Linked DNA regions of Homo sapiens: all the other regions are linked to region 1. The links come from fine-mapping of genetic effects on gene expression. A gene starts in region 1. Each other region holds a variant in brackets. All regions are shown on one strand. Distances are from middle to middle.

Region 1 (4,790 bases):
GTTCTGGTCAGTTCCAAGGTTTTTTACAAATGCAAAAGAAATTCATTTGCTACTCCTGACCACAGAGATGAATAATTTAAGGACAATATCAAATTCTTGATAAATCTCATAAATGTTTTAACTGTCCAAGAAATGGACATTTATTTGGTTAATCTTTTAGCTGGCCATAAATAATGTAATAAAACCCCTTAAAATTAACATTAAATAACATAAAGACCTAACGATTTTTAGAAAAAAACCTTTTTGGACTGAGCCTTGAATTTCCTGAGAATTCAGCTACAAGTGATAACTAAAATGTAACTCGAGAATCTGGATATGGTTCCAGAAAGGATTGTTGTCATGCAATTGCCATTTCATCATCTTTCCTTAAAGTCCCTTCAATATTTATCATTGCAATTTTTGTCCTGTCTTTTCCCCTCCATCACATCAAACCAAGGAAAAACAATTATTAAATGCTCATTTATACTCACCTCCCTCCCTTCATATTCATTCATTCCTCAGCCCTAAAATTCCTGTAGGAATCCTGCTTTTACGTTTTATCTTAAAGCCACCATAGTATCTGTAATCTCTTTTGTAGTCATGTATGCTTAATTTTGGAAGACTGTCAACTACCTCTTCAGGTTCATTCAAATGAAAATGTATCACAAAATCGTAGGCTCTTCCCCTATCTCACTGAAAAATTACTCTAAAAATGACCAGTAAGCTGTTTTGTTGAAGCAAAACATCCAGACCCTAAACAAAAGTAGCAGAATTACAACATTTCCATAGAAATGGATTTTGAGCTTCTTTTTTTTAATTGGGGAAAATCTTATTTTTTAAAAAAGAATCCCAGAATACATCTTTGCTTTCAGTCCTTCAATTCTAACATAATGCCATGTTAGAGAATATGTGGTAGTGTATACTAAGCCCTTATGCTGTCTCACATCCTTGGGACAAAATATCTGTTTTGAAAGGACTTCTCTGAATTTTGCTATTTCCTGCTTACTGAGCAGTGGCCCCCTCCTGGGAAAACAGAGTTATTTCAGCCAGTGTTCAGACTCCATCTTGCATACGTCTCTGTGGAATATTAATAGTGCTACTGAGATATATTCATCATCTTTTCTCTGCTTTTGCTGTCTTTATAGCCCAGTGAAATTTATATTTGGTGTTTGTAGGAAGGCTATCAGAAGCTACTTGGACATCAAACTTTTAAACTATAAATAATGATGGCAAGACTGCTAGGATATCTTTCCACAGTTAAACCCATTCAACAGAGTTTCGTTCTTATGACAGTGCAAATTAAACTAGAATAAAATTAGTGTGATTTTAGGACAGTTTTAAAGTGAACATATTTCCCTCCCTCCCTTCCCATCTACATATCAAGGAGACACTCCAGACTGCACTTTTATTTAAATTGCGGCCATCAGAAAATACCGTGAGAAGGTAGTGTGTAGGTAATGGTTCAGTTAGCATTGACCCCAGAAAATGGAAAACCAAGAGCAAGTCACTTTTAAAGTGAAGCAATAGATTTTGAATATGGATTGTTCCAACTCACCACTTCCCGACCACAACACAAGAGTATTTCACTGTAAATTAAGAGTCTAAGTTAACCACAGCTGTGGTATAACTCTGAGAATGTTTTCTCTACATGTAGACAATTCTGGATCCTTCCGTGGTGCCCGTTACCCTGGTCTTTAACTTTTGTCCTTTGCAGGGGAGGGGTCAATGCCTTCTTATTTCCTTGCTCTTTAGAATTCTCCACCAGAGGGAGGACAAGGGAAGGAGTAGGTTTCACGCGCAGTTCTGAGTAAAGTTTGAATCTGAGAAACCCCACATTCACGAATTAAGGATCTCCAGTTCTGTGTCTTTATTCTACCCCTCCCTGCCTGCTTTTCCACTCGGCAGAACTGAGTGACTTTCAGCGGCTGCAGTAATTTTAATTATTCTGAGTCGTGCTCCGAACTATGTTTTTTATCAGTTCCTCTGAAAATTAAGTTGTAGTAAGAGACGTAGTTTAAGGGCACCCCCTTAGAAGAGGCCAGGTTATTTTTTAAGGAAAAGCTGAAGATTTCTAACAGGCACTTACTAAACACACACACACACACACACACACACACACACACACGCACACGGCGCAGACCCAGCAGGAGAGCGCAACCTAGCATCTTTAAGGTTCGCTTAGCCCTTCCTGTGCACCTGGAAGGAAGCCTTATCTTAAACTCCCTTCCACCTAGAGTTTATTTTCGCCTGCGTGCGACAGGGCTTTTGTACTTAAGTGAGTTAAGGAATGAACCCCGAACTCTTCTGGGAAAGCCACCAACGTTCCCCCCGCACCCCTCCCAGGGTTCCTGACCACGGAGACTCTGCTTGGGGCACAGGTGTGGGAGTCGCAAACTTTTCTCTGCGCCGTCCTTTTCCGCGTGGAATGGGACGGAGCAGCCCTCCCAGGCGCTGCCTGGCTGCGGAGGGGAGCGGGCAGCGAGAGCCTCGGGTCTCCGCCTGGGTTCCCGGGTCTCCGGGGCGCTGGCCTCGGTCTCCGCGCAGCGTCCAGCGACCCCTGTCGGGGGTTCCCGGCAGCCGCGCCGCCACCCCCCGCCCGGCCAGCGCGGGAGGAAAAGGGGCTGCGCCCGGGAGCGCCGAGCCCAGGCTCCTCCCGGTGGCGTGTCCGCGCCTCGGGGTGGGGGTGTGGTGGGGAAGAGGGAGGGGGCGAGGCCAGGGGAGGGTGCGAAGGAGGCGCCTGCCTCCAACCTGCGGGCGGGAGGTGGGTGGCTGCGGGGCAATTGAAAAAGAGCCGGCGAGGAGTTCCCCGAAACTTGTTGGAACTCCGGGCTCGCGCGGAGGCCAGGAGCTGAGCGGCGGCGGCTGCCGGACGATGGGAGCGTGAGCAGGACGGTGATAACCTCTCCCCGATCGGGTTGCGAGGGCGCCGGGCAGAGGCCAGGACGCGAGCCGCCAGCGGTGGGACCCATCGACGACTTCCCGGGGCGACAGGAGCAGCCCCGAGAGCCAGGGCGAGCGCCCGTTCCAGGTGGCCGGACCGCCCGCCGCGTCCGCGCCGCGCTCCCTGCAGGCAACGGGAGACGCCCCCGCGCAGCGCGAGCGCCTCAGCGCGGCCGCTCGCTCTCCCCCTCGAGGGACAAACTTTTCCCAAACCCGATCCGAGCCCTTGGACCAAACTCGCCTGCGCCGAGAGCCGTCCGCGTAGAGCGCTCCGTCTCCGGCGAGATGTCCGAGCGCAAAGAAGGCAGAGGCAAAGGGAAGGGCAAGAAGAAGGAGCGAGGCTCCGGCAAGAAGCCGGAGTCCGCGGCGGGCAGCCAGAGCCCAGGTGGGTGCGCAGCGCGGCCCGGGCCCCACGATCCTCCTCCTGCTCCTCCTACTCCTCCTCCTCCTCGGATGCCGTGGCCTCTCCCTCCCCCTCTCCCTCGCCCGTCCTCTTCGCCCTGCGCTCTGAGCGCCCGTTGAGTCGCGCGGTGCTTCCCCTCCTGGGGGCCGCCGCTCACCTGGGCGCCGAGTCCTACCGGGCGCCTACGCCCAGAGCTCAGGGCAAGGGACAGCAGTCCCGGCCGCACCCTCCCAGAGTCCCGGGAGCGCTTCGCTCCCTGGCACGGCCCCTCCCCAGCGCCTTAGCGGCTGAGCCCAGCCCGGGAGTGGGACCTGGGCTATAGGAGTCGAGGCTGCGTGCGCGCGTGCCCCGCGCCATAAGCGCTTTGCACGGGGGCCGTGTGCCCTCTAGCGGGAAACGCTGGAATGGGCCGCCTGGAGGGAGAGCCGGTCCCCTCGGTGTGCCTGGCAGCGCAGAAGTGGGTGGTCGAGCAAGAGGCCGCGTGGGAAGTTAGCTTCGGCGTTTTGGGGCACAGGGCAAGCGATGTAGAGTGCGCGCCGGTTCATCTTGATTCAGTCCTGTGCTACGGAGACTCAAGAGCAGCGGCAGGGATTCCTAAAGGTCAGCGAAGCAGATGAAATCTAGTCCAGTGTCAGGAATCAGCTCTGCCCCAAACAAGTTCTACAAACTTTTGGCTTAACAGTTCTATTTTTCAAGACCTCTGTGATAAATATGGATAATTTACTTTCCCAAGAGATGTAAGAAAACAACCGTTTATCTGAATTTTTGAACCCAATTGTTTGCTGGTTATCTATATAATAAAATGGCAATTGAAGCTTTCTAGAAACAAATCTTGTATTTCATCATCAGAACACGAGCATGAACAAAAGCTTTACCTTAGATGTCCCTAGGAAGCGCTGATGCTTTGGACATTACCTTGGACAAAAGAGGCATGTCGAATAAATACTTGTTTATGAGTGATTGGTAGGTAGCTGATAAAAGAGGGGAGGAAGGAGATGGGGGAGAATTTATTTTTTGCCTCTGCAATTCCCAATTATTAATTGATCCAGATGCCTTAAGTCGCTTCGAGCGTACCCCCAACACACATTTCATGAAGCACTTCTGCAGAATTAATTCACTAGTACTTGATAATACTGTGGCTACAGTAATACTGTAGAAGTATTTGTCCCTTGCTGGAAGAAAACAAACCACATTTGCTTGGTCTTCTTACTGGTATCACTGATAGCATTTCAGAACCTGGGTTATTGGCAGAGACCTTCAGCAGAGTTTTGAGCAAAACAGAAATTGAACAGAGAGTAATTGTTTCACCACTGGCCATTCTTGTGCTTGCTTCTTTAATAAGATCCTGCTGATCATATTCACTTCAATTACTGATCATTGCCCCTCATGAGGGTGTATTGAATTTTCCCTTATTTTTACCCTATATTTTGGGGAGAGACCATAGCACTTTATTCAACAAGATAGGAAA
Region 2 (4,790 bases), 27 kb after region 1:
AACCTCTCAAATTTAAACAGGATAGAATATTTTATGTTACTAATACAGCAACAGAGGCATTTTCCTCTGTTGGGTAGATGCAATTATTCAGATTCCAAGTGGTTGAGACATTCCATAATTATGTCTCTAATTTTACATTCTACAGGCCTCATTTCCTCTGTCTGATAACTGTCCTCACCCAAGGGTTTCTACAAAGTCACAGTTTGGGTGAATCTGTCATCTCATTTTTTCAAAGAAGGAAATCATCATCAAATAAAATTATACACACCAAATAAATAAATATCAAATAATATATTAATCTACAAATTTGCGACATATTTATTTTCTGACTTTGAGGTTAATTTCGCCACCATTTTTCCTAATCTGTATATCCTATCCCCACTTGCAAACAATGTTTTGCCTGAACCGAGTAATGGCAACATTTATCGTAAGTATATCTTAGCTTCTTCTCCTTATCTGAATGGGGTTCTAGTTCCCTTAGCATTCTCAGATAACATTCTGAATATTCTACTCTGTATATCCAGTTTGTTCATAGACCTCAAAATGCAGACCCTGCATGGATTATTCCCATTCTGCTGTCTGTCTTTATGAAACCTGCCAATACTTATTGCTAGATGAAATTCTACAGATGTTCCATGATGACTTATTGACTCGATAACAGGGATCTGCAAACATTTCTGTAGAGACCCAACTCTGCAGTTGTAGCACAAAAGTAGCCACAGACAATTTATGAGCAAATGAATGCAAGTGTGCTCCAATAAAACTTTATTTACAAAAACAGATGGTAGGCAGGATTTGGCTTATGAGCCGTATTTTGCTGACCTCTGCTCTATAATATTCCTTGAAGAGATACTATTATCCCAATATCCTGACATAAAATATATATCCTTACCATTTGCTGTAGCAATATTCAATTTTTCTTTACCTGGCGTTGCTTATGTTCTCCAGCCAGTTCTGTCTTTTCATTAGGAATCTGAGTTAGGATTTCTTAGAACTATGTATTTGGGTAAGTTTATCAAAGGCCTTTTTATTTTTATTTTTTATTTTATTATTATTATACTTTAAGTTTTAGGGTACATGTGCACAATGTGCAGGTTTGTTACATATGTATACATGTGCCGTGTTGGTGTGCTGCACCCATTAACTCGTCATTTAGCATTAGGTATATCTCCTAATGCTATCCCTCCCCGCTCCTCCCACCCCACAACAGTCCCCGGTATGTGAAATTCCCCTTCCTGTGCCCATGTGTTCTCATTGTTCAATTCCCACCTATGAGTGAGAACATGCAGTGTTTGGTTTTTTGTCCTTGCGATAGTTTGCTGAGAATGATGATTTCCAGCTTCATCCATGTCCCTACAAAGGACATGAACTCATCATTTTTTATGGCTGCATAGTATTCCATGGTGTGTATGTGCCACATTTTCTTAATCCAGTCTATCATTGTTGGACATTTGGGTTGGTGCCAAGTCTTTGCTATTGTGAATAGTGCTGCAATAAACATACATGTGCGTGTGTCTTTATAGCAGCATGACCTTTTAAAGATCTTAGGAGCATAATGCTGTAACCTCTCAAATTTAAACAGGATAGAAGATTTTATACATTACTAATCTGGTTGGGTAGATGCAATTATTCAAATTCCAAGTGGGTGAGACATTCCGTAATTATGTCTCTAATTTTACATTCTCCAGGCCTCATTTCCCTCTCTCATTTCATCAGGTCTTCAAAAGGCTTTTAATAAACTTACCCAAATATATAATTCTAAGAAATCTCAAATTCAGTGCTTGATCAGATCACTGTGTGGTATAGTTTGTATATTTTTCCCCACCCAAATCTCATGTTGAATTGTAATCTCCAATATTGGGGGTGGGGTCTGGTAGGAGGTGACTGGATCATGGGGGTGGATTTCTCATGAATGGTTTAGCACCATTCCTTGGTGCTGTCCTCATGATAATGACTAAGATCTGGTCATTTTAAAGTGTGTGGTCTCTCTCTCTTTCTCTTGCTTGCTCGCTCCTGCTTTCACCATGTGATGTCCCCCACTACTCCTTTGCCTTCCGTCATGATTGAAAGCTCCCTGAGGCTTCACCAGAAGCCTGGCAGATGCCAGCATCAGGCTTCTTGTAAAGCCTGTAGAACTGTGGGCCAGTTAAACCTCTTTTCTTGATAAATTACCCAGTCTCAGTTATTTTTTACAGCAATGCAAGAATGGCCTAACACAATGTGTAATCTTTGTTTCATAGAGTTTACACTACAGCTTTGCCACCTAACTCTCCTATGTTAGTACATAGAATTTCTGAACCTTCAATCCTGTTCAGAATGCCAGATTGTGAGAGAATCAGTTATGCTTCAACCTTGAAAGCATGGAGTTCTCTGCTTTCAGGGAACTCCAGATGACTCAGGAACAGAAGTAAACCCTAGACAAATCTAAAGCCAAACATAGAATAAAGCTGAACAGCAGATCATAAATCCCATTCCTTGCTCCCTAGGAATACCTCTTCTTCTAACTCCAGCTTCAGATTTTTCCCCAGGTTTCACAATTGACCTTTGTCTTAGTGTCCATACTGGTTGGACATACCCCTCTGGCATAGACATTCATGATAGGCATTGCCATTCTTCATGATAT[G/T]TCATTCTTGGCTACTTCCTCTTTTTCTAGGATGCATGTTTTAGCTCACTTCATGTTCAATTGCCTTGTGGTTGGCCTACTTCTTCTTTCTCTTCTTTCCTACTTTTGTGGTTGCTTTATAGTTGACTAATTACTAGTTCATCGGCTCTGCTTATTGCCTAATACTATAAAAGTTCCCTTCCTGGAAGGGTTGGGGATGGGAAAGTGGGGGTGGGTGGTAGTAAAATTAACTAAACTTTGTAGTGGGCTGGAGATAGGGCATGAGTAAAGGAAAAGTTGTATTTTAGGACTGCTCAACTGCATGGATATTTATACTTTTTAAGACAAGCAACATTAACAAAGTCTGGATCTTAAAGTAGAGATCTACACTGGAGATAATAATATCCCTGTGGGCATTTAATGCTCATGGTTACCTAGAAAATAAGTATAAAGTAGGAAATTTTGAGAGAGTATTCTTGTAAAGATTAAATGGTGACACCAATGTAAGGCTTGAATGTTCTAATAAGGGTGAAACTTGGTCTGGGAATGGCAGTTCTTACACCTTTTATAATTCTTAACTGTTATTTTTTAGATCTGGTCATTTAAATCTGAGGACCCAGATATGCTAGTCTTATAGAAAGCACAAATTTAAAATGGGTTCTTTGTCTTACATAGCTCTAAAGTTTAGGAAAAAAGTATCTTCAAGCAACCTTCATAGGAATTCTCCAAAATAAATGTGTTCCTGATTAATATGTGTTTTATTTTTTAAAATTTATTTTTAATTAATTTTTAAATTGACAAAATTGTATGTATTTATGGTATACAACGTGATGTTTTGAAATATGCATACACTGTGGAATGGCTAAAGCAAGCTATTTAGCATACGTGTCATCATCTCACATACCATTTGTTTGTGGTGAGGACATTTAAAATCTACTCTCTTAGCAATTTTCAAATAATGTAATTATTTTAAATCAGTTGTTTAAATATTATGAAATTACTTTCAGCCCTTAGAGAATAGTCCATCTCACATGACACATAAAAATGGAAGGAGGTGTCTAGCTCAGGAGAAACTTTTTGGAATATTTGATTCTCTTTCCCTCATTTTCTCTTCTTTTTTTGTTTTTTAAAAAATAATTTTTAAACCCTGTATTGACTCCTGGCTATTATTTTGAATATGAGTGCTAACAATTTGAGCCTTGTAGATAACTATCCCAATGCCAATTGAACCATAATTTTCATTTGTCTCTTTCTACAAGATTCTGAATTTTTTCAGAAGTGAAATTAAGTCTCAATTCCCTATAATTTACCCAGGGCAATAAATCTTAAACATTTTTTCTTAAAAAAACAAAACAAAACATTTTTACTGGAAAGACTTTATGGGGTGGACATTAACTCTGTAAATGCCATATAACTTTTGGAGAGGGCTGCCCCTGGCACAGTGTAATATTTATGAGAAAGTTGTGCCCATACTAACCACCTGTATGAGAATCGCCTGCGATGCTTTTGTTTAAAAGGCAGATTCTTTTTTCCCTATATTTTTCTCTTTTTAAAAAAATAATTTCGACTTATATTTTATATTTATATTTATATTATTTTAAAAAATAATTTCAACTTATATTTTATATTCAACCTACGTATGCAAGTTTGTCATATGAGTGATATTGCGTGGTGCTGAGGTTTAGGGTACGAATGATCCCATCACCCAGATACTGAGCATAGTACCCAATAGTTGGTTTTTCAACTCCTGTTCCCTCCTTCCCTCCCTGCTCTAGTAGTCCCCAGTGTCTGTTTTTGCCATCTTTATGTCTATGAGTATTTGATGTTTAGCTCCTACTTATAAGTGAGAGCATGGAGTATTTGGTTTTCTGTTCCTGCATTAATTCGCTTAGGATAATGGCCTCCAGCTGCATCCCTGTTGCTACACAGGATGCAGTTTCATTCCTTTTTATGGCTACATGATATTCCACAGTGTGTATATACTACATTTCCTCAATGCAGTCCACCACTGATGGGCACCTAGGTTGATTCCATGTAAAAGAGCATATTGTTAGGCTTTTCTCTGAATTACTGAATCAGAGTCTTTCAATGGGTTCCATGAATATTTCATATTCATTTTAGTAAACTTGCTCAAGTGACTTATGTATACAGTTATAGGTTTGGGAACCTCTGGCCTGGGGAAGTTGTC
Region 3 (4,790 bases), 38 kb after region 1:
CTGAGAAAATTGTATTACATTCTGGGAGTCAGTGGGTTGTGTCAGAATGTGTGGGAAGCAGCTCACTTTCACTTTCAAAAGATTCTTTAAGGAATTTATGCTTTTTGTAAAATAGGGGAGACTATTTGGACTCTTTCTTATTGGGATTTCTTTTTGTGTGTTTTATGAGACCAAAGGGCACTGACTTCCATCATACGGTTTGACTTTGGAGGACAGTACGGGAAAGTGCAGCAGCCTTGTAGTTATAGTGGCCACAGAATGTAGTCACAGAATAATGTAGCACCAGGTTTCTTACTGTCAACAATCTGTTTAATTTGATTTTGGTTATTTTCCACCTCTTCAGCAAATTCATGTCACTGGGAACCCTAAGATAAGGAATTTGCCTTCCCTGATCTTCCTGTGGGGTAGAAGTAAAATGATAAGAATTCAATCGTTAGGTTGTCCATGGACCTGCTTAAGAGTGCAAGGAGGTTTTAAAGGTCCTTAGAAAGTCAAATGTGGACCCTGCTGAAGAAGGGATGCAGCGTTGCTTACTTAAAACTGTAGTGAACAGAGAAGAGAGAAATTTAACTTTGATATTGTAGGCCTCAACGAGTAAAGAAGGCTTTCAATCCTGGCAGGTACTAAGGTTTTAGTATCATTCTCTTTAATAAGTCATCTGTGGACAAAAATGAAAAAATCAGAAAGCCATAATTACTAAGAAAGGAGATCTGACTAAATAACAAAGAAACAGATTTTAGAAGTCCTGAAAGGACACATTTGTTTCAGAATTAGCTCTGCTAAAATTTTTCTTTTTCACAGAAGGAATAAGCTTTAAATGGCTATGTGAAAAATAGATTATAGGGAACTAATGTTCTTAGATCATGAATCAGGGACTTTGTTCATTTATATGCACTGCTTAAAAGTTTTCACATAGTTATCATTGTTTAAAACTAATTATAATCAATTGCTAACTCATCTTACCTGGGAATTTATTTAGTTTAGAACATGTAAGTAAATTTCTTTAAATAAAAAAGAGAATTTTAGTGGCATGAATTAAATGTAATTCAACTTGAGCAAAGAAGAAATGGTTATAAAGACAAATATTAACATATCAAAATCATGTTAATGTGCTAACTTTACCTAAGCAATAAACACATCAGAACAGAAAAAAACTTGACAATAAGAAAATAAGTAAATATATTTTTAATTTTTAGTAACTAGATGTTTCTCAGTTTTTCTGTTTAACATTTTGGAAGTGAATATGGCTGGTATGTATAATGCATAAGAAAAAAATCCTGTTTTATGACAATGGAAAAAATCATATTTATAAGCTTATGTCATGTGAACTTTGCTACACATCAATTAGGTAAAACTGTACTGGATCCATTTTAACCCTGTGAGTTGATTGCTTTCAGTGAAGCTTGCTGGACATCTTTATGTCCGAGAGTGAGATGTTCTTATAATTAGGGGCAGCTGTGGTGACAGAATCAATTAGGCAGGCCTGCTGAACACTTACCTTCCAGCTGCTGGCCGCGGCGCAGTGATTTGCTCCAGCATTCATTGTCACGGTGTATTGCCTTTACACCTCGAAAGAACAACATTAATCCATTAAGCCACTTTTGTTGCTGTATCCTCACGTGGGGGTTATCACATCGCAGTGAACACAGGAGTGAGATACAGCACTGTTCACCCTTGTGGCATTTGGCATATGACAGATAGACAGCTGCATAGTTCAAAAGAATTATTTTAACACCAATCGCAAGTATTGCCTTGTTTTATTTCCCCATCAATTATCCAAGTAGCTCAGAAAATTCAGCAATTTTGCATATCTACTGTATTTCTCAGACTGTCTTTTGCACGTGGAATAAGTGCAGAAATAATGTCATGTGGTGTATCCCAGGTTTTGTGAGGAAAATATGGACCCTATTGATAGATCATTAAATAAAATCTTTAGCACATTGTCTGGTAGTTAAGAGCCAGGGCTCTGGAGTCAAACTTCCTGGGTTCAGATACTGACTTGATAGTATACCAGCCGTGTGACTATAGACAGGTTACTTTACCTCTCTGTTTCTGTTTCTTCATCTGTAAGTTGGTGATAATGGCAGTAATACATATCTCCTGGAGTTATCATAAAACTTAAAAACGTTAATGAGCATAAAGCTCTTAGAACAATGCCTGGCACATAGTAGGTACTCAAGTATCAGCTATTATTATTCAAAGGTGTTTATTGTTGAAAGTA[CTATA/C]TATATATATATATATATATATAATGTGTATATGTATACATTACATTCTACTATATATACTATATATAAATATACTGTAAATAAAAAGGACTTTATTTAACTTCATCTCATAGGCTTTGGAAATACATTATAGTTGTTTTAAGATTTTTATCTTTAGTCCCTAACTGTGAAGTACAGGGCAAGGAACTGTATAGAAAAGAGAGATTGCTAATTTCAATAAATAACTAATTTCAATTATCAGGGTGAAAAATTATCTCACCTAATAAACCTGCATTCATTTTCCCTTGTAGAATTTTACAGTATTGTAAATTTCTCACAGACAAATGTGGAGAGGTGATTTGGTTTACATAGCTCATTATAAGAACAAAAAATTTACTGTAGTGGCTATGAAATGGAGTGATCTTTCCCAGATTTTTAATCTACTGTCCTTCTCTCCATTTTCTGCCTCCACTTCAAACTTTGTAGAAAAACTAGGTATGGTAAAAAGTCCTAGGTTTAAGTTTTGGTTCTGCAACTTGTTAGACTTACGACATTAAGTTCCCCTATCAGTTTCCATCTCCTCACCTGTAAATGGAAACAATCATTAGGTACCTTACATGAAATACACACCAGAACTGTTGCAGATGAAAGGAGATTTGACCAAATAGTAATTTTGCGGATATGTAGTGACAACAAGGCACATTAACAGTTAAGGGAGCAAACCAGCATCTTGTAGACCATGGTCAATCAATGGAGAAGAGCAACTTTGACTTGAGGGCATAGGAGGTATGGTGGCTGACACTTATAATCCCAGCACTTTGGGAGGCTAGAGCAAGAGGATTCCTTGAAGAGGATTGCTTGAAGTGTTTGAGACCAGCCTGGGCAACATGAATCTCTGTATACAACAAAACAAAAAGCCCAGCGTGGTGGTGTGTGCCTGTGCCTGTGGTCCCAGCTATGTGAGAGGCTAAGGCAGGAGGATCACTTGAGCTTAAGATTCTGAGGCTGCAGTAAGCTGTGATCACATAACACCACTGCATTCTAGCCTGGGTGACAGAGTGAGACTCTGCCGCCAAAAAAAAAAAATTAAAGCAGAGAAGGTAATGTGCTTTTCTTGCAATAATACAAGAACCGTCTGACCACTCTGGGTAGACTCTGAAATTAGGTGAAATAAATGAGCTAGCAAGGAACATGACCAGGGTCTCGGCTGAGGCAGGGTCCAGTTTGAGAGTCCTCCAACAGTGATGGCCAGATAAGAGAAATACAGAACATGAAAACTTCAAAGTAAAGATAATACGACTTACTTGACAATTTTCCAGTTAGATTTACATGTCATTTTTGTTAGTGTCTGATGGCAGAGCGGCATAAGAGTCCTAGCCCAGTGGCATGCAGAACACAAACAATGTCACAGGGCCTCACGATTCCAAATAATAAAAAGTCATAGAGAAGATAGATGGGGCCTCTGGAATCATTTTGTACCTGGGTTTCTTCTTTGTCAGCATCTTCCAGATTCTTCCTCATCCTTTCAGCAGACACTTGAAGTCCTACTTTGGGTTAGGAGAGCCTGAGATCCTGTATATCTTCCATTCAATAAATTCAGAAATTTTGATGTTTAGGTATAGTATCAATCCAAATGGACACATACACAGTCAGGAAATAGCCTAACCCTCCAAATAGAGACTGTGACCCCCTGCTATTAACTTGCTGACCCTTGTTTGATTTCGTAGGGATAAATTCCTTGAATGGCCCTCTGTTTGTACATGTGGGTTTTTTTGTTTTGTTTTGTTTTGTTTTGTTTTGTTTTTTGAGACGGACTCTTGCCCTGTCACCCAGGCTGGAGTGCAGTGGTGTGCCCACTGCAATCTCTGCCTCCCCAGTTCAAATGATTCTCGTGCCTCGGCCTCCCTAGTAACTGGGATTACAGATGTGTGCCACAATGCTTGGCTAATTTTTGTATTTTTAGTAGAGATGGCGTTTCACCATGTTGGTCAGGCTGGCCTTGAACTCTTGATCTCAAGTGATCCATCTGCCTCGGCCTCCCAAAGAGCTGGGATTGCAGGTATGAGCCACCAGCGCCCAGCCCTCTACATGTTTTTTAAGTGCAGTCAGTTGAGTATGGTTTTCAGATGGAGAATCTGATTAATCATCTTCAATGGCCTTAGCATAAGCATTCTATTTAACTGAGCTGATTGTGGCTCATACCCTCAAATCAAATATCTTAAAGAATCATACTGTTTCAGTCATCGTGTAGCAGTTAATTGTGAGAAGTGAAACTTGGAGGACATCCGTATGTAAAATCCCCCACCAAAGGAAACCAATATGTTTGGGAAATCAAAATGAAGCACTAGTAAGAAGCCAACTCTGGCTGTAGTGGCACCACTGTGATGAGTGTTAGCATAAAATGCTGAAATACTGCCCCCAATTTTATTCTTTTATGTTGTATAATGAAACGTTCTATGCATGTTATGTGCTTGCAAAGAAATTATTCAGTAGTTCATATACACATCGTTGGATTACATAAGGAGCTGGACATGGAACTGCTAGAATGGAATTTCCAGAGTCCAGCCATCTTAACCCTACTTTGAA
Region 4 (4,790 bases), 21 kb after region 1:
TTAGGGATTTTCAGAAAGTAGCATTTTGTTTTGTTTTGTTTTGTTTTGTTTGAGACATGGTCTTGCTCTGTGGCCCAGGCTGAAATGCAGTGGCGCGATCTCAGCTCACTACAACCTCCACAAACGATTCTGTTGCCTCAGCCTCCTGAGTAGCTGGGATTATAAGCAGGCACCACCACACCCGGCTAATTTTTGTATTTTTCGTAGAGACGGGGTTTCACCATATTGGCCAGGCTGGTCTTGAACTCCTGGCCTCAAGTGCCCACCTCGGCCTCCCAAAGTGCTGGGATTACAGGCATGAGCCACTGCACCTGGCCAGTAGCATTCTTTGGATGAATTGACTCTGGTTTTGTTAGCCTTCAGAATCTAAGGAAGTTTATATCTGGTCAATTTTGAGAAAGAAGATCTCTAAGAAATGCCTCAAGTGGGGAAGGGATGGACTTTATAAACCAAAATGTCAATGTGTTAATCCTAAATATCTCAATGAAATGGGGCAAAATATGGCTAAGAAAAATTTGACAAGGTGTAAATCTCACTGAATGCAGTTGCTGTGGTTGCTACCAAGTTTACAAGAGAAGAAACCAGGTTTTGCCAATGCATCAAAAATTAGATTAAAAAAGAAATTTCTCTGGCCTAGTCTGATGCTTAGCCTTCAAGAGTAAAATGATGTGTTGTTAGATGACTTGACCAAAGTCCCATAGCCAAGGCAGGGAGAGTGTTGCAGCCTGGTGGTCCATTATCTGATGCCACTGGATCTATGTAGATGAGTTTGGAACTTCACTTTCTGCCTTGTCTGGGACGTAAAAACTTTGGGTGCCCCTCACTTCTTTTTTATATAAACTGTTGTGTTTTATTGCCCTGGCACTCTTAAGTTGCTGTTTCACCCTAGCAGTGCCTGCTTCAAGCCATCACCAATGAAAGTGCCTTTGAAGTGTCTTAAGGCGTGTGCATTGCCTAGACAAATAGTTGGCAGAAGAGGTCAACACAAGCGTCTTTGCTTTGGAGTGTCAATTGAAGAAATTGTTTTTCCACTTGAATTGGCAGTGTGTGCTCTTACTGCTGTTAGAGTTCTGGGCAGAGAAGTAGATGTGATAATTATGAAGGGAGAAGGGGGAAGAACAGCTGCAGAATGCAGGGAAGTGACTGGACTCCAGTAATCATATTTGGCAGGTCAAGGGTGAGATTTAGCCTGATGGGATTTGGACCATTCCCTGGGCTAGAAAGTAGTGTTAAAATCAACTCCAGGTGTTTCCGTTATTCTTAAGGCCTAAGTATTATTAAAGCAGAAAATAATATGGTTAGGATATGAATGGGAGGGGATTGGTCATTCGCTGCTTGGGAATCACTTATTTGCAATAGAGCTCATTCTCTCTTGACAGTTGCTCCTACATGTCTAAAATACACCATAAATCTCGAAGTGCTCGTTTCAATATTGAAGTTTCCTCCAAGTGAGCTGTTATCACTTTTGTCTTCAAGAGAATGCTAACTCACTGAATCTCTTTGAGCTTTTTATGCTTTACACTGTGGATTTTGGAGTTTGCTTTGGTTTTTCCACTAGTTCTTTAAGTTAAATTTAGGTAAAGAAATTTAAAATCATCAGGCTTATTCTTAAAAACTCAAGTATTATCAAATGATGGATGATAGAGATATGCTTTGGGAATATATCCAAGTACTTCAAATGATAGAAGTTAGAACACCAGGAGACATTTAGTAAGAGATTCTTCTGCTGGGTGAAATCAACATCAACATCACCTGGAAACTCGTGGGTAGTGCAAATCCCCTGGCCTCACCCCAGAGCTCCTGGAATGAAGCTGTCCGGGATAGGGCCCGGCATCCTGTGTTTTAATAAGCTGTTTGTGGGATTCTAATGTTCGCCAAAGTTTTAGGATCATGCCTGCAGAGAATCCTGCTCACTATGAAAGTTTGCATGCCTGAGTAAGTCAAAAGAGATCTTTGAAAATAGTATCTAGGTTTGAGAGACTTGCTGTGATTGTATAATTTTAGCAAATGTGTCAAAACAAATTTTTACTTGCAGGCAATATCTTGTTAGTACAGAGAAATAAAACAAACAAACAAAGATTATAAATAAGAACAAAAGTAATTCATCCAAGAGCCATGTGAAAATGAAAATCCTTGAAATGGAAAAAAAAAAAAAAGTTTTTCAGACTACCCTGTGGAAGTAGTAAGTTACATTGAAAGGCCGAAATCAGCCAAGATCATTTTTTGTTGTTTTGTTTTTTGTTTTTTGAGACAGCATCTCGCTCTGTCACTCAGGCTGGAGTGCAGTGGTACGATTTTGACTCATTGCAACCTCTGCCTCCCAAATTCAAGCAATT[C/A]TCCTGCCTCAGGCTCCCAAGTAGCTAAGATTACAGGCGCACACCACCACACCTGGCTAATTTTTGAATTTTTTGCAGAGAGGGGTTTTGCCATGTTGGCCAGGCTGGTCTTGAGCTCTTGACTTCAACTGATCCGCCCACCTTGGCCTCCCAAAGTGCTGGGATTACAGGCATGAGCCACCGTGCCTGGCCAGGCCAAGATGATTCTTGAAGTGTGTGTGCTGTGCGTACTGTGTGTGCATGTATACGTACATTTCTGATGGTTCACTTTAGTGATACTGTAGTTCAGTTTATCTGGGATTGCCTCAGTAGAAAGCTATACTCTTACTTGTTTAACTTTCTGTCTATTTTCTCCTTTAAAAAAGAAAAGATTATATAGTAGACTTATACTTGGTATCTGTCTGAAAAAAATTATATGAAAACTGTCTTTATTGCCAGGGAAGCACTTGTACTTTCTTTTCTCATTTATTCTTTTCTGCACTTTAATATTACAGTTTATTTGCTTCTGGCTTTCTTTCATAATTTATCAGAAATACAGGCTTGTATAGAAATCACCATTTTTTAAATAAAATTTTATTTTTATTAAATTATTGTGAGCTCATTGTTTTTTAAAACAATCATACACAAGTAAAACATTTACCTTGGGGGTGGGCATCAGTTCCTTTTCCCATCCGTTTTCATCTCTAGTTTTCTTTCCTAAAAACAAGCCCTCTCAACAATTCTAGTTAATTCTTTTTCTGATAGTTATCTTTTTTTTTTTTTTTTTTTTGAGATGGAGTCTTGCTCTGTCTCCCAGGCTGGAGTGCAGTGGCGCGATCTTGGCTCACTGCAACCTCTGCCTCCTGGGTTCAACCAGTTCTCCTGCCTCAGCCTCCTGAGTAGCTGGGATTACAGGCACACACCATCACGCCTGGCTAATTTTTGTATTTTTAGTAGAGACGGGATTTTTACCATGTTGGCCAGGCTGGTCTCGGACTCCTGACCTCAGGTGATCCGCCCACCTTGGCCTCCCAAAGTGCTGGGATTACAGGCGTGAGCCACTGCTCCTGGCCTCTGATATTTATCTTTATATTTTCTATATAACATGCATGTTCTGCTGTTTCTTTTTTAAAAACCTTTTATTTTAGGTCTTATAGGAAGCTTGTGCATTCATTTATTCAACACATAATTATTAAGTACCTAATACATTCTGTACATTGTGCTAGGTTCTGGAAATAAACAGAGAATAGAACAGACATGATTCTTATCCATGGAGAGCTTATATTCTAAAGATGCTAGGAAGTACTTTTAAATAAAACTCTGACTTATATATAAAAACTTCAGAAAAGAAAGGGCCTGCTTTTAAATATTTTTTTTGGTGTTGTCCACTACTTGAACTTCATCAAGTTCATCAGAAAAAATTTAAATGGTATTTCTAAATAAGTGGTTTGCTCCACTCTATCATTAAGCTTGTTAAGATGAATAAAAATCAGAATATTTTCAAATGTATGTAAATACATACATTCAGTGTATTTCCCAGCTTCAGAAAGTCCTAATTTCTGAAAGTCCTTGTTATCAACTCTTGTTTTGAAAGGACCCTTTCTTTAAGATAAAGTGTCACATACATTATTTTGTATTGATACAAATTATTGATGATTATGGATATTTTAGGTAATCAATACTAAGATAATTATGTTAATATGAATTATGATTATAGGGTATTGGTAACAGACAGGAGTGTAGGTGAATGATATGAATTTGCACTGAGTTTGTCATGCCCAGAAAGTTAATCTGAGCCAAATTTCTAAAAAGTGCCTTCCTTATTCCATATTATGTATGAAAGAAGAGCATAGTTTATGTGTGAATATATGGGCAACATGTATATAGATGTCCACATGAACTGCGCCTGGTTAGGTCCTAGAAAAGCCTATGGTGGGAAAGGTGGGTTAAGAGGATTGAAGTTAGGAGTGAACTTGTTATAGTCTTCATAAATATTTTTATAGCCAGTAACATAAAACAATAAAGACAGTGCTCCAAATTAAAGATACAGCAATGACATGACATCTACATTTGAAACTAGTAATAATGGATGCCGGGCCCTATTACTAATTTCTGCTTAGCATTCCTTACTCACCAGAAATGTTTTAGGATCTTAGTTCCTTTGCAGCTTGGGATGCTTGTAAATTCACTTGTTCTTTTATAAATAATGTGCATACAAGGAGATTTTCAACAGCATTTTCTTATCAAAGGTCTGGGCCTATAGTCAAATAGTCAATGCCATCGTGGTTTTACAGCACCCATGAGGAGGTGTTGACGTTCAGGTTTTAGCTTCAGGATTTTGACTTGTGTCTTCTTCCTGCTTGGGTCCTGTCTCTTCCCACCTCCCCAGCTCAGCCTTCATGTACGAATTTTAGATTCTTTTGCCTTCGTATCAGCCAGCAGAAGCTAGTTTTTTGTTTTGTTTTGTTTTTTTCA
Region 5 (4,790 bases), 87 kb after region 1:
ATGTTCATCCTGATCATTTTATTATTGATTTCTTTAGTTACCATCAGTTCATCTCTGAGCAGCTCATTCATTTAGAAAGATGATAGCTTGTAAGTTTAATTCTAAAACTCATTCTCATCCTTGTTAGCATTTGACATGCCAATGATTTTGCAGAGCTGGGTTGTTATCAGGACTCATGTTTAGTCAAAATGTTTAACACTTATTTCTTTGATTCCTGTAGAATTTCCTTATTAATTAACCCAGGGTCTATAAGCAACAAATTTTTAAATCAGATATATATCTATATGCATGTAATTCATTTTTTTCTCTTTGATTTTTGACTACTTTTTTATGCTGATATTTTAGAATTTCTATGAAATTAACACATTTCCTTAACAATTCAGGAAATCTGACTAACTGTACTTTAAAATTGTGCTTTGGTATCACCAGTAAATAAGAAGGCTTCAATTCATCAAAAAGATAATAATAAACTGTATTAATGCTTTCTTTTATTTATTTATTTTAATCCATCTACCAAAAACAATCAAGACAACAGCTTTAAAAAAATGCAATCATTAAATTACTACGACAGCCTAGTCTGCTTTTGTGGCTGTTTTGTTTTGATGGTTACCGAGAATGGAAACAGACAGATTATGTTTTTCTGCTTGTAATTGTCCAGTACCTCCAAAGGCCTCTTGCCTGGGCATGATCCCTTCTGGAATTGAATTCTGCATTCTTCTTCTATCACTAATCAAACAAAACACTATCAGAAGAAAACATTTCCATAACTGGATCCGGAGTGAAGGAAAATTTCAGATACTTAGACATGCATATACAATAAACAGTGTTTCCTGACAGGCTCATTAAAAAAGAATGACTCCACTATGTGTCAACTGCACAAATAGAATCCATTATAAGACTATGGACTCTTACTTCTGAAGTCTGCCTTTGTGCCCACCTAAGATTAGGAAAACTAAATCTTCCACTAGAATTTAAATATCACAGAAGCAGAAACGATTGCAATCTCTTTCCCCAGTGCCTTCCTTCCTCTTTCTCTCAGTCTTGGGTAGGTCCTGGTACATATGAGGCACTTGCTTAAAAAAATAACTGAAGGAACGAATGAAGTTGCTTAAGGCCGGGAGCAGTAGTCTGTAGATGAGTCGACTCTCACCTGTAGTCCCAGTACTTTGGGAGGCTGAGGCAGGAGGATCGCTTGAGGCCAGGAGTTCGAGACTAGCCTGGGCAACATTGTGAGATCCCATCTTTACAAAGAAATTTTAAAAATTAGCCAGGTGTTGTGACATGTACCTGTAGTCCCAGCCAATTGGGAGGCTGAAACAGTAGGATCACTTGAGCCCAGGAGTTTGAGGCTGAGCAAGATCTTGTCTTAAAAAAAAAAAAAAAAAAAGGTTGCATAAAGCAGCAGAGACAGGATCAACCTAGAATGTCTGTGGAAAAACTTTGAAAAAGCATACATTCTTAAAAATAAATGGGAAATCTGTGGCAGAGGAAACAGTAACTACTGACCTGATCTTCCCTTTTCATTTTATTTTAATTTCTAATTTGCTGTAATTGTATGGTGCTTTCAAATACTGATTAAAACTCTTAAAAAAATGAAAGAGAGAAATCACATTTTTCTGCTAAACTGAGTTTGTGGCATGCCTTCTTCCTTCATCTTGTTGATGCTCAAAGAATTATGCAACAGAGGGCCATCATACTGTTTAGTATGTTAAATTATTTTGATTCATGTACTTACTAGCAACATCATTTAAATGGTTTGGTTTCGTCATGGCCAGACTTAAGACACATAGCATAATTAAGTTGACAACCTAATATTCCACATTAAATCCTGGTGTTGGAAAAAGCTAAACTGATCGGAGAAATAAATCTGTCCAAAGTAGAAACTGTAATATGTATGTGAACATGTATATTCTCATCATCACTTTTTGTTTTCTTCTTTTGTTCTCTGTTCCTCCTGTTGAGTCTTGTGTAAGTCCAAATAAAAATTTTATTGTAGAGCCCAACAACAAAAACAATGATCTCTTATGTAATTGATGATTTTAAAAAATGCTTTGAAAGTCTTCTTCCATACTTTGTATCAGTATAAAGATATTGTACAGTGGTACAGAAAAAAATGGCTTTTGAAGTTCAGATGGTTTGAATCTTTGCTTCACCACTTACTAGCTATGTAATTGTGGGTTATCTGTGCATCTTTTTAAATTCTCACTTTTTCCATCTGTAAAATAAGAACAATATCAGTTACTTTGCATACTGATTGTAAAGATTATAAATAAGAACTGATGTATATATATTACTTGGCACAATGTCTGACCTGTTTCTGTTTTTCACAGTCAGGCTTCTCTTCCATTTTCTAAGGTGACTCGGACCTTACCACTCTAAAAATTCAAATCATGCCTTCACTTTCTGCAGATTGCACTTGTTACTTTAGAAGAAAAGGAAAACTATAAGATGGAAATTATTTTAATGTCCTCTTACCAAATCTACAAACCCCAGCACAATGCCTGTCACAGATACGGTCATTTAGTAAACATCTTTTGGATGGATAGGTGGATGGGTAGCTAAGTAAATTAACATACAGATTAGGTCTTTGGAAATGGTAGCTATTTTTATTACACCCTGTACAGTGACCTTAAAATTTGAAATCTACTGCTTTTGAAAAG[C/T]AGGTCATCCTGAGGTTTTCCATTTTGTACCTGCCAGATTGTGAAAAGAAGTTCATTTCAATGCTGCACAGCACATTTCCTGATCAGTTGGCTGAATTACAGTCATGCCATTTCATTTTGAGTTGGACAATTCAAGCATTTAGCCCTGATTTTTTTTTTTGACAGTAAGTTAGTTATTTTTATACTCATTCAACACATTTTTCCCCCACCACAGGTTATTGTAAAACCACCTGTCTCTGGGAGCACAGTTAATTCTGTGCATGAGATTTCTAAAAATGTTTTACATTGTCATTGCAGTTTTTTAAAAATGTAGAGATCCCTCTGCTATTCTTTTGCATTGCCAAATGCTTAGGTACCTTGGAAAACTGCTTAATTGGTTCTTCTTATCTCACTAGATTCTTTGGCCTTAGGTTGTGAATGGGTAACAATCATTTAACTTTTGATGTGCCCTGAAGTTTCCATCCAAAACTTTTTTCTTTGAATCTTTTTTAGGGTGAAAGAGAAGAATATGGGGGATCTAGGTGTACATTGATACTTTTTAGATGCCTTTGATGTCAGTCAGTAAACAGCAGTAGACATTTGGAAGAGCATGATAGAAGAGACAGGGCTAATTCCAGGTATTTAACCCCAAGTTAAGGAGACTTAACCTGAGGCTGGGTTATTTCTCTGATCTCTAGGGACAGAGTAGTGGCAAAGCCTTAAGGTGGTAAAATTTTTGAGAAACACTTCTAAAGACTTATGTTTTGTTTTAGAATCCTATCTAAAAGCATTTCAAACAAATTAAGTTAAGCCGTTCCTTTCTTACTGGATGTGTTCGGGCGCAGGGGGTGGGGGCAAAAAGAAGCATATGGTTGAAGCTCTGCACTGCAGTAATTTGTAAAAGAAGTACTTTTCCTGCTAGGTTAAATTGCTCTGCCTGCCTCTTGCTGTCAGGGACATGATTTAGTTAAATACGGATGCTTTTAGAGGGGCTTTGTACTGCATCATACATATTTAATAGTTTATAAAATATCTGTGTGAATCACTGGGTGGAGAATCCAGCAGCAGAGAAGCTCAACCTTCACATTGGAGCCTCTGGCCTTAGGGTCCACTGACCAGTTGACCACTGGAAAAGGTGTGTTCAGAATGGGAGCGTCCTGAATAACCCAAGGATTCTACTGATTTCAACAGAATAAGCTTAGCATCTAACCTTTCAGATTTTTTCAGTAATGTGAACTTTACATTTTCTCAAGTCACATTATTCATAGATGTTCTAATTCCCCAGGGATCGAAGTATAGCATTAAGGAAAATCCCTTCTCAATAAAAAAATGGTATTGGGTGAGGGGAGGGGGACAGAAAAAGCTCTTAGATGTTCTATAGCAATTAATGGTTGCCATATAAAGATACCTCATTGTCATTAGATAATGGTTAAAATTATATGAATCTTTTACCCTTGATATAATTTTGAAATTCATCTTAAAAATCAATTCCTTAAAATAAAAGTAGTAGGGGAAAGAGGTAGTGATGGGTGGAGGCTGGGGGATGATGCAGAGAAGGAAAAAAATAAGCAAGTGGAGGTTACTAAATGTAGCATTGGTGGATTATTTTGTTTGTTTGGCATAGGTAATGAGTTTTATAATAAAACTTACTATAGTATATCAAGATAGGCTCCTTTCATATATGAACCCAGAAACACCATGAAAAATTTTTTAAAAAGTTCCAGCATTTTATTATGAAATTTTCAAACATAGAGAAAAGGTGAATTAATCATTCAGTAAACAAACTTATGCCCACTACCAAGATTTTACAGTTAATATTTTCCTATATTTGCTTACTGAGTGTCTACCCATTTATCTATCAACTTTTTATTTTTGATGAAATTTCCTGTATATATGAGTTCATTTTACCCCCAAATATCCCAGCATGCATAGTATATATATTTTATTACATTGTTTAAGAGAACATGTAGGTCATGGATTATGCTATCAAATAGAATATATGTTTCTCTCAAATAAGCCACCATATTTGGACCGAGGGTTTTCTAGTCATCATATTTCAGAGTATAACTCAGACAGTAGCAGCCTTCTTGTTCCTGTTCCCTAATAATTACTCCTTCCCCTGTCCCAGGCTTTTAATTCTCCAAATTAAAA

Alleles and levels. Positions count from the first base shown, and alleles are read on the strand shown. Sizes are in standard deviations (SD) of each study's normalised expression. Not every link is listed here.
As copies of C replace T in region 5, the expression in putamen of the gene that starts at base 2,789 in region 1 goes down (moderate effect, 0.52 SD a copy in GTEx).

Evidence for each region. PIP is the estimated chance that this variant, and not a neighbour inherited with it, causes the effect.
Region 2: its variant is fine-mapped to the expression of NRG1 in whole blood (INTERVAL, PIP above 0.99). The same link has a PIP of 0.9 or more in blood mononuclear cells.
Region 3: its variant is fine-mapped to the expression of NRG1 in whole blood (INTERVAL, PIP above 0.99).
Region 4: its variant is fine-mapped to the expression of NRG1 in whole blood (INTERVAL, PIP above 0.99).
Region 5: its variant is fine-mapped to the expression of NRG1 in putamen (GTEx, PIP above 0.99). The same link has a PIP of 0.9 or more in caudate.

Annotation. Positions count from the first base shown.
Region 1 is chr8:32,545,523-32,550,312 of GRCh38, forward strand. It overlaps NRG1 (neuregulin 1), which reads left to right and starts at 2,789. Exons shown (of 12, transcript NM_013964.5): 1 at 2,789-3,304. The coding sequence starts at 3,205.
Region 2 is chr8:32,572,612-32,577,401 of GRCh38, forward strand. All of the region lies in intron 1 of NRG1 (neuregulin 1), which reads left to right. Among named protein-coding and RNA genes, the nearest start is that of NRG1, 27 kb to the left of the region's middle. The variant G/T (reference allele first, on the strand shown) is at 2,624.
Region 3 is chr8:32,583,937-32,588,726 of GRCh38, forward strand. All of the region lies in intron 1 of NRG1 (neuregulin 1), which reads left to right. Among named protein-coding and RNA genes, the nearest start is that of NRG1, 38 kb to the left of the region's middle. The variant CTATA/C (reference allele first, on the strand shown) is at 2,222.
Region 4 is chr8:32,566,821-32,571,610 of GRCh38, forward strand. The region is part of intron 1 of NRG1 (neuregulin 1); the gene reads left to right. Among named protein-coding and RNA genes, the nearest start is that of NRG1, 21 kb to the left of the region's middle. The variant C/A (reference allele first, on the strand shown) is at 2,337.
Region 5 is chr8:32,632,732-32,637,521 of GRCh38, forward strand. All of the region lies in intron 5 of NRG1 (neuregulin 1), which reads left to right. Among named protein-coding and RNA genes, the nearest start is that of NRG1, 87 kb to the left of the region's middle. RefSeq lists an enhancer at 20-1,219. The variant C/T (reference allele first, on the strand shown) is at 2,661.